Regions from separate parts of the Homo sapiens genome. Here region 2 is linked to region 1. A link means that fine-mapping ties the variant in region 1 to the expression of a gene that starts in the linked region. Tissue or cell type: blood mononuclear cells. Region 1 holds a variant in brackets; the other region holds the start of a gene. All regions are shown on one strand. Distances are between the middles of the regions.

The links.
Region 2: it holds the start of LINC01187, and the variant in region 1 is fine-mapped to the expression of LINC01187 in blood mononuclear cells (TOPMed, PIP above 0.99). The same link has a PIP of 0.9 or more in T cells.

What each region holds. Positions count from the first base shown.
Region 1 is chr5:170,245,941-170,250,340 of GRCh38, forward strand. It overlaps LCP2 (lymphocyte cytosolic protein 2), which reads right to left. Exons shown (of 21, transcript NM_005565.5): 21 at 293-2,879. The coding sequence ends at 2,757. It overlaps C5orf58 (chromosome 5 open reading frame 58), which reads left to right. Exons shown (of 4, transcript NM_001102609.3): 4 at 22-291. The coding sequence ends at 173. Among named protein-coding and RNA genes, the nearest start is that of C5orf58, 15 kb to the left of the region's middle. The variant AT/A (reference allele first, on the strand shown) is at 2,749.
Region 2 is chr5:170,196,722-170,201,121 of GRCh38, forward strand. LINC01187 (long intergenic non-protein coding RNA 1187) reads right to left here and starts at 2,420. Exons shown (of 5, transcript NR_108022.1): 1 at 2,021-2,420; 2 at 1,031-1,108.

The sequences.
Region 1 (4,400 bases):
CTCCTGTTTTGTTTTGCACAGAGCTCTCCCAGTTATTGCTTTGTGACCTTATCCTACATTTTAATCATCCCATCAAGACTGAGAACTTAGCAGAAGCAGAAAGAAACAACCCCCTCTTTGAAGAGTCTAAAATATCAGATGTATCCCTTGTTTCTAACAGTTTTTCTATCTGATTTCTTATTTGTTATGAGTTTCTGTTTTATTGTTGAACTAACAAATATTTGGGAGAGTTGAGTTTACTAATTTGTATATATATAATTTAAAACAAAATAAAAATAATGTAAACAAGCAGTTCATGTTCTTGAAGGCTGTTTAATGTTTTGAAGAATGGCTTAACTTACGTCACTAATGGCAAGTGTATGACATAGGAAATTGGCCATGGGTCACTGCTTATCCTTTAGCTTATGCTTGAATTTGGCTCAGGTTGAAAGAGAGCTACTAAATTATTAATTGATGGAATGAGTTTTTATTAATCAGAACTCTCCTGGTAGTGAACGCCAAGCACAACTCAACCAGCTGAAGCATTTATTGAGTCATGTGACTTGGAAGCACATAGTTGGAATAGATTTCAGGGATCCCACTAATTTGTCCATACTTTTACTGTGTTTTTGTGTGTTGGCCTCGTTGTCTTCTATTGTAGACTGGTTCTTCCAGATAATTGGTAAATGGGAGTAGTTGCAGGGCAGCAGGCAGCTCCAAGTGTACAGCATTGCCTTTGGGGACCCCAGATAAAAGAGAGATCTTGTCTCAGGCTTCATGTTTAACATTCCAGAGAGTGACCCTGATTGACCCAGCTTTAGTAAGATGTTTATCACTGAGCAGGGTTCTGAGCAACTGTGACTGATGCACCTGGGGTCATATAGAAGGTCTGTGGCCAAAAGAGGCAAGGCCCAGCCAAAAGGAGTTGTCGGTGCTTGAACAGAGAGAGAATGCTAGTCATGAAAACATTAGCTTCCCAACATTGATTTCAGTCATAGCCATGGAACAGAACATCTTAATCCTGATGGCACTTTCCACTAATAGACTTAAAATGAGCTTTGGTTTGTTTTATAAACATGATTCGCTACCAAATAGTTGCTTTGAAATCTATCAGGTCCTTCATTTTAGATATTTTTGAATTGTAAAGATAGAATACGGCAAAGCAAGACAAGTGGAGCTTACTCGATACTAGAACCTATGGTGTATGCTATCCTTACTACCTTGTACCTAGCTCACTTGTTTAACACAGAAGAGCCACTAAGTAAATACTTGCTGAATAGCCCGTTGTGTAGACGTGTAAATGAATGCAGGGTTTTCAGCCTTAAACTCCCAAGTTTTGGACCCTAAACTGAGAACTTCTGGTTGTTAAGGATGAGATTTTGTGAAACACCATTTTTATCATCAGTTAAAAGTCTCTACCTTCTGCATACTCCTTATTTTAACATATCATCAGTTTTAAAATGGTGACTTCTTAGATTCCTTCCAATACCCCTTTTATTAGCTCATGAAAATGAAGCTGCAAGATACTCTTTTCCATTTCGAAAACTTGTAGATTAAGCAGAGACGCCAAAAATTGTTGCTAATAAAAGTTGTGCAATAACAACCAAGGTCCCAAAGGGAAAAACTTGAAGAACAACTGATTGTCACTATTTGGCTGAATACCAGTTTTTTAATCTGGCTGAATGCCTATATTTTTTGTTAAGTGATATTTGTAAACTGGAGGAAAGAGTTTAATTACCTCAAAGCACTTATACAGCCTGTTTGGGAAGGATGAGGAGAAGGGACTTTATGGCAGAGCTGTCAGGGGGATAACAAGAGACAGAAGAGCCATATCTAATAGGAAAGTCTGATCACATTTAATCTAAAGTGTTGCTCCCTCGTCTTCCCAGGAAGCCTTTGGTAAAATCTATATCCCTGGACAATGCTTTTGGGGTTGGGAGAAGGTTGGTGGGGGGCTGTGATGGTTGGTGTGGGTGTGGAGATGTGAAGAAATGCCAACTTAACCCCAGATGTGTTCATTAAACCTAGACCCACGATACACCAAAGTCTCATCCCTAAATTTAAAATGTTTTCTTTTGGTATTTGTAGTTTAAATTTTCTTTAAGACAAAAATATAACAGTATGGACTAAAAGTCAATAAAGTTGTTTTAGGAAACCAAAAAAGTAAAGCAAAAGACTATTTTAATCCCAGAAGTTATCTCAACATGCATTTGTCTTTTCATAAAAAAATTACGTAAAAATGCCCCCAGGAAAAAATACTAAATAAGAGTGAAATTATATTTTTGAAGCCTCTTAAATTATTGCTGCTGAGAAAACGAGGTTTAGTGATTTTCAAATTACATGTATAAAACTAATGAATGCCTCTGACTGACAGAGGTTTGGCTGTAAAAAACAAATCAGTTTTATGTGACACCAATAACTATTACTGTTTCAGTGTTTTAAAACTTGCCCCAAATTGTTTCTGTAGCTGTGTAAACTACTGTATTTTGAAATGGGCATTAAATAATCTTTTAAAAAATGAATTATTACAGTGCACTACTAGACTTCAAGTGTGAACATGACTCATGCACTTTACAAACATTGAAGAAGAATAAATAAATTATGGGATAGTTGACAGTCTTCATTTCAAACACTGTTTTTAAAGGAAAGGATAAAACCCTTGTGTTCATGGGGAGGGGTTCAGTTCAGTCCTAAGTGTTTGTCCATTGACCAAGGCTGATTGATCTCGTGTTGGCAACAGAGGCAGGAGGACGGTTCATTTGCTCGGCT[AT/A]AACTTGCTATGGGTACCCTGCAGCATGCGTTAATGTGCACTGGTATCTGGAACCTCGGTTTTTCCCATCAATGAGCAGAAGTGGCATTTTCCTGAAGTAGTCAATAATATCTGACACAGACAGAAAGTCCTGAAAGAGTCAAGATAGGGAGATGAGTCAACATTGGAATGAAAAGCAGGAACTTCACTTTCAGTTTTTTTATCTGCATAATATATGCTGCCTCTTCAAGTGATGAGGATTGTGGGGGGAAAAAATGTAAATGTGGCAATTAGTTTAATGATTTCTGCTATAGAACTTTGAAAAAATTCCTCATAAACATCCAACAAACCATAGATAAAGATAAAATATGGGCCGGGTGCAGTAATTCACCCCTGTAATCCCAGCACTTTGGGAGGCTAAGGCCGGTGGATCACCTGAGGTCAGGAGTTTGAGACCAGCTTGACCAACATGGTGAAACCCTGTCTCTACTAGAAAATAGAAAAATATTAGCTGGGCGTGCTGGTGTGCGCCTGTAATCCCAGCTGCTTGGGAGGCTGAGGCAGGAGAATTGCTTGAACCTGGGAGGCAGAGGTTGCAGTGAGCCGAGATTGCGCCATTGCCGCACTCCAGCCTGGGTAACAAGAAGGAAACTCCATCTCAAAAAAAAATAGATAAAATATGTGCATGCGTGTGTATATATATATATATATATCTACATATCTATATATATATATATGTAATTTGAAATGCATATATTTTTAACTTCATATGAAGGGGTCATTTAAATAGTCACTATTACAATATTCTTGCCTCGGGTTGCTCTGTTTTTGGTTTTGGTTTTGGTTTCTGCATCTCTATTTCACCCCCAGTCATTAATAGTGTTAGGAAACATAAGGACTCAGGAGGTCAGACACGGTTCATGGTGTCTAGAGGTGGGATCTGCAGCATGGCACAGGAGTTCCTTCATGATCTCTCTGCTGTGTCCTCACTGCCACCTTCACACTCATAAAGGCTCAGCAACCAATATTTGCAGCCATAGCCTGGATCGCCCCAGCCTTGATTGCTTGCTAGAGAGGGAAAAGCCTAACTCATTTTTCTAGATGTGGGTCACAACTCACCTAGGAACCCTAACAGGATAATGCACTTCCTTTAAGACTAATCTGCTAGGTGCCTCCCTCCATGGGAGCTGCAATGAGTGGTTGGTCTGCACTTGTGTGTTTCCACACTGGACCAAGATAAATCTTGAAGGGCAAATACCTCTGCTCCTATAGGGTCTGTGCAGCTCTATCCACTGCCAACCAGCGATTCAAACATTTGATCACAAGCATGCATTTTTTTTCTATTCATTAACATTATCATAACAGAAGTATGTGAAGCAGAAGTTATGGGTAAGCTGTTTCTCATTCTGGACATGTTTGATTCAGCTGGTCCTCCTCTTGGAACTTTGAACTTAGAGTATGTTTGGGGCGTTACCTTCAGTTGTTAGTTTCCTTTGCGAAAAACTAGCCCTGAGGGTTTCTTTCCATCCGTTCTGATTAGCACTCAAAAAGTGACTGGCATGAGAATCTAAACCTTGGCCTAACAGAGAATTTCTTTGGCGATCTGGCCATCCTCACAGAGCCAAACCTCCATTTTGTTAAGAAATGAGCCAAGTATTTGAATAATCACCCC
Region 2 (4,400 bases), 49 kb before region 1:
TTCCTTCCAACTGCTCATGAAACCTGTTCCACAGGTGAGAAAACTAAAGCTCAAGAAGGCCACGGCACACACAGGCAGCGAGGGCAGCAGGAAGATTGGAAATCAGCTCTGCTCCCAATGCCTGTGCCCACTCTGTTCCAACACAGCCTTCCAGTAAGTGGCAATCATCTCTGACTTTGGCAGAAACCAACCTGCTTGAATTTCCTGCCTGCCCACCTAAGCCACTGCTTCCCCAACTTTAGAAGCTCATACGCTGTGAAGGTGGGTCTTTTATGTAAGAGTGAAAAACATCTCAAACCAACTTGTTTTCAAACGAAAATTTTTTCCTACCTTTAAAACTGCTATAAAGCAAAAGTTGTCATAAAAATGTTAAAAAGGAAATAAAACAATGTGATTAAATCCAAATCAGAAACTATTACCTTCTAAAGCCCTAGGAGTAAGGCTTGATCTGCCTGACTTTAAAAAACAGAGATGAGAAGATAGTTCGACCACAACAGCACCAAACTGAGACTTTGTCCCTAACATAATCGGAAAGACCGAAAAAGAGTTGGGAGGACATTGTGTTGCTCCGTGATACAGTGTTATTTAAAGTCGTGTCCAGGTGTCAGCTAAAATCGACTCTCCTTTGTCCAACATTTTCACGGACACTGATCCAAACCAATTTAGCACAGGTTTCCAGGGACCTCTGGGTAATAATGCCCCTCAGCTGCCCTACAGATGACAAGATTCTGGACAGAAACCCAGCTCCCCTAACCCACAGCCCTGGCCCAAGGACAAGATATGGGCATTCCTTTGGTGTTTCAAATAAAAACACAGTGAAATCAATATGTTCTCCAAGACCGGCTGGTGGAGGCTGTTCACCTGCGGAGAAGGGGCCTGGTCATCCGGTTCCTGAATGCCTTTGCCACACTAGAATGTTTTATGGTTCTAAAGTTCCCACCTTAGAAAATCACCCACTAAGAAGCCAAGCTCTGAAAACGTTTTGATTTTTCTAGAGGGAAATGGAAAGTGAAAAATGGAATTCAATTACCTTGAAAAGGGGCAATTTCACTCACAACTGTTACACTTAAAAGCTCCATATGAAACAGGCATTCAAATAAGTCTCAGCCTAAGTTAAAAGAAAAAGGGGAAAAAGAAAATCATGTATTAATCCTCTTCCCTCTACTCCTTCTGACCTAGTGAGTCTTCCTTAGACTCAAAAAAGATAGATGGACTTGAAACACGATTAAATAAGCATGTTAGGACTTTAATAATCCAAGCCGCAGGAGTTTCTATTAAAAGTTGGGTATTTAGAAGAACCATTTGGTTAACCAGTCTAGTGACACAGAAACCACCATGTGAGGGAGGCTCTTCTGAGCAGAGCTGAAGCAGGGACTCCCTGCTTTTCTCTCAGAGATTTGGGGGTAAAGTTACCATCAGACCCTTCAGTTCAGCTGAAAACTCTGAGATGCCCAATACACTCCCATTTTCTACTTCAAGGAAACTTCACTAAAACAGAGGAAAAGATAATAGCCTTGATTGAAATAGAAAGGCGTTACAGAAACTGACACCAAACAACACAACAGACATCATCATCCCATCATAACCATGACGCGCTCATTCTTTCTTTACATCTTCATTCCTGCTAGGTCAAGGCAAGCCGTAGAAGTGGTTTTGTGACCACCATGATGGTTTCCCAAGGCAAATTTAGACAGCATATTTTCTCCTACCACAAAAAACTCCAGCCAGACTCTCCAGTGGTTGAATTCCTATTCCTCAAGTTACCAGCTGTGGAACTCTGTGCCTCAGTTTCCCCATCTGTAAAATGGAGATAACAGTAGCATCTACCTCATAAGATTGCTGTAAATATTAAATGAGATAGTGCTTAGCACAATGCATGGCACATAGCAAGCACTTGGTGGCCGATCAATGGCAAATACGAACACTGGCTCGAGCTTACTGCCATGGTTTATCTTAGCAGCTCCTGACTTGCCTGTTGAGAAAAAATGCTCCTAAACTCAGAAGTATTCAGAAAACCTACAGCAAGGTGGTGAGAGACTAGACTCTTCAAACCTCTGAGGTGCTTTTCTGTCCTCATTCCAGTTTTCTGCCCATCACATTGGCCAAAGAGCTCTAGCCAGAGTTGAAGCCAGTGCTGATCACTTTCCTGACAACCTGGCTGGCAGAGATGGGACCGTATGTAGCACAGGGAAGAGGTGTGTTTTCAGACAGCTTCCTCTCGGAAATCCATTTTGACTGTAGATCCAAAGAAAATCCTTCCAGGCTTCTTGTGCACACGCCAAAACCTGCACACATGTATGCATTTCTTCCTCTCTGTGCATCTCTCCTGCACATCTGGGCAAAAACCAATCTCTGCAGGTAGCATCTTGTGCATATAGCTGTCCGGCCCTATGATAAAATGCATTGTTTCTCTCTGAGTGAAGCTTAATGCACCTCAGCCTGGGGATTTATACTAAGCAATAAAATCCACAGGATAGAGAAATGCAAATAGATTGTAGAATATAATATTATCATTGTCAACATAAAAGACTTTTATTTACTGCCCCCCAAAAGAAAATACACCATAGTGTCGTTTGTTTCAGGGAATGCAAAAAAGGTTTCAACAACTAACAGGGCATGTTTCTGAGCAAAATATACCCCGTATATAATGTTGGAACACATATTGTCAGTGGCCACTCGTGTGTCTGTGTTCTTGCAAACAAACCTGTGGAATTGAGTCATGGAAGGTCACTTCCAGCCACCTCTCTGAGCCACACGGCACCTACCTGGCTCTGTTCACAAACAAACCAGACAATATAGACCTATTTGAAGGGAGAGACCCTCTGAGGCAGGCCACACTCCATCAGCACATCTTAGAATGAGGCATTTGAGTAGTTGCTGACTTGGCTTACTGGGGAATGGAGTTGTGGTGGAGGTTGATTAAACAGATGGTCCATGTTGCTTTGGGCAAAGGGAAAAGTTAAAGAGAAGATGTAGCAGAGCACATGGGAGGTGACAACTCCATCTTTTCTCTAGAAGATATCCCTACAACTCCCCCTTAATGCTCAAGGTCATTCCACCAATGCTTTTGTTGCACAGGGTATTGACAACTTACAAGACCAATTATTTTCACTGATTTGTTTGAATGATAAGTCTGTTGTTTTGTGTAGGGGTTTGGCTATGATATCAGACCCAGTCACAGCAATTGTTTCATTTCTGTCTACAAGGGCAAGATCTAAGTTTATAAGGCTTTAAACAGCCATAATTACCTGAATGACATTTTATGTGAAAAATATATTCTAACTGGTTCTCCCAATAGCCCTAGGAAATATACCCTAGGTGTTATTACGGCCAATTTACAGGTGAGAAAACCGAGACTTCAGAGAGGTGAAGCACATTATCCATGGCCACCCAGCCTGTAGGAGGGTGGCTCCAGAGGCCTCAGTCCTGAGCCCGAGCCTGTCCTGCTTAAGCTTACATCAGGAAAGCCCTTACGTGGCCTGTGCTGGGTGCTCTGTCATGGGGACATCTCACAGGTTTGGTAGGTTTTATCACTCCTATTTTACAGGTGAGGAAACTGATACTTAAAAGAGGAAAAGTGTCTGCCCAAGTCACACAGATGTATATAGCTTGACTGGATTCGAACCTAAGTCCTGACTCCACCGGCTGTGTGGTATAAAAGGAGAGCTTGAAGGTGTCATCATTATCCCCTTTACAGGCCACCACAACCCCTATCACTGAGGGAGTTTTATAAGTTTCAGCAACCACATCAGTAATCTCATTTTGCATCCACAAATTTCTATTTTGTCCTTGCAGCTCACTTGGACAGGGAATGTCCCGCATGTTTGAAAAGATGGTTCAGAAAGGAGCCTTTGGCAATCCCCAGGGTTTCTGCACCCAAGATGGACTGGAGGGATCATGACAACCAGTTGCAATCAAAGAAAAGAGGAAACCATATCCGAGAGTGGAAGCTGTTTTCTTGCTTTCAGGGATCAAATGTCATGACCCCCCAACTCAGTCCTAATGCATCCTCCACAGACATACTCTTGAGCTCTCACAATCCACCCTTCAAGTCATGATGGGGCTCAAGACCTTCACTGGGCTTCATTATCACAGAGCAAACAGGGTGAAGAGGACTCATTTATTGAAGCAACAGATATTGGTGACCAATGAAATTGATGACCACCATGACCTAGGCTGGGCATTCAGTGGAGAGTAACACAGGCAACTTCCCTGACATCTGGGGCTTACAGATAATGGAGGAAACACAAAAGAATCAGATAAACAGATAGGCCAGACCAGAGAGTGCTAAGCAGACATTAAAACAAGGAAGTCAACATCAAATGCAGAGCCCAGAGAAGCCTTCCTTGGAGAGGTGACACTGAGCTGAGGCCCGACTTGCCCTGGAAAGACCTTGGGAC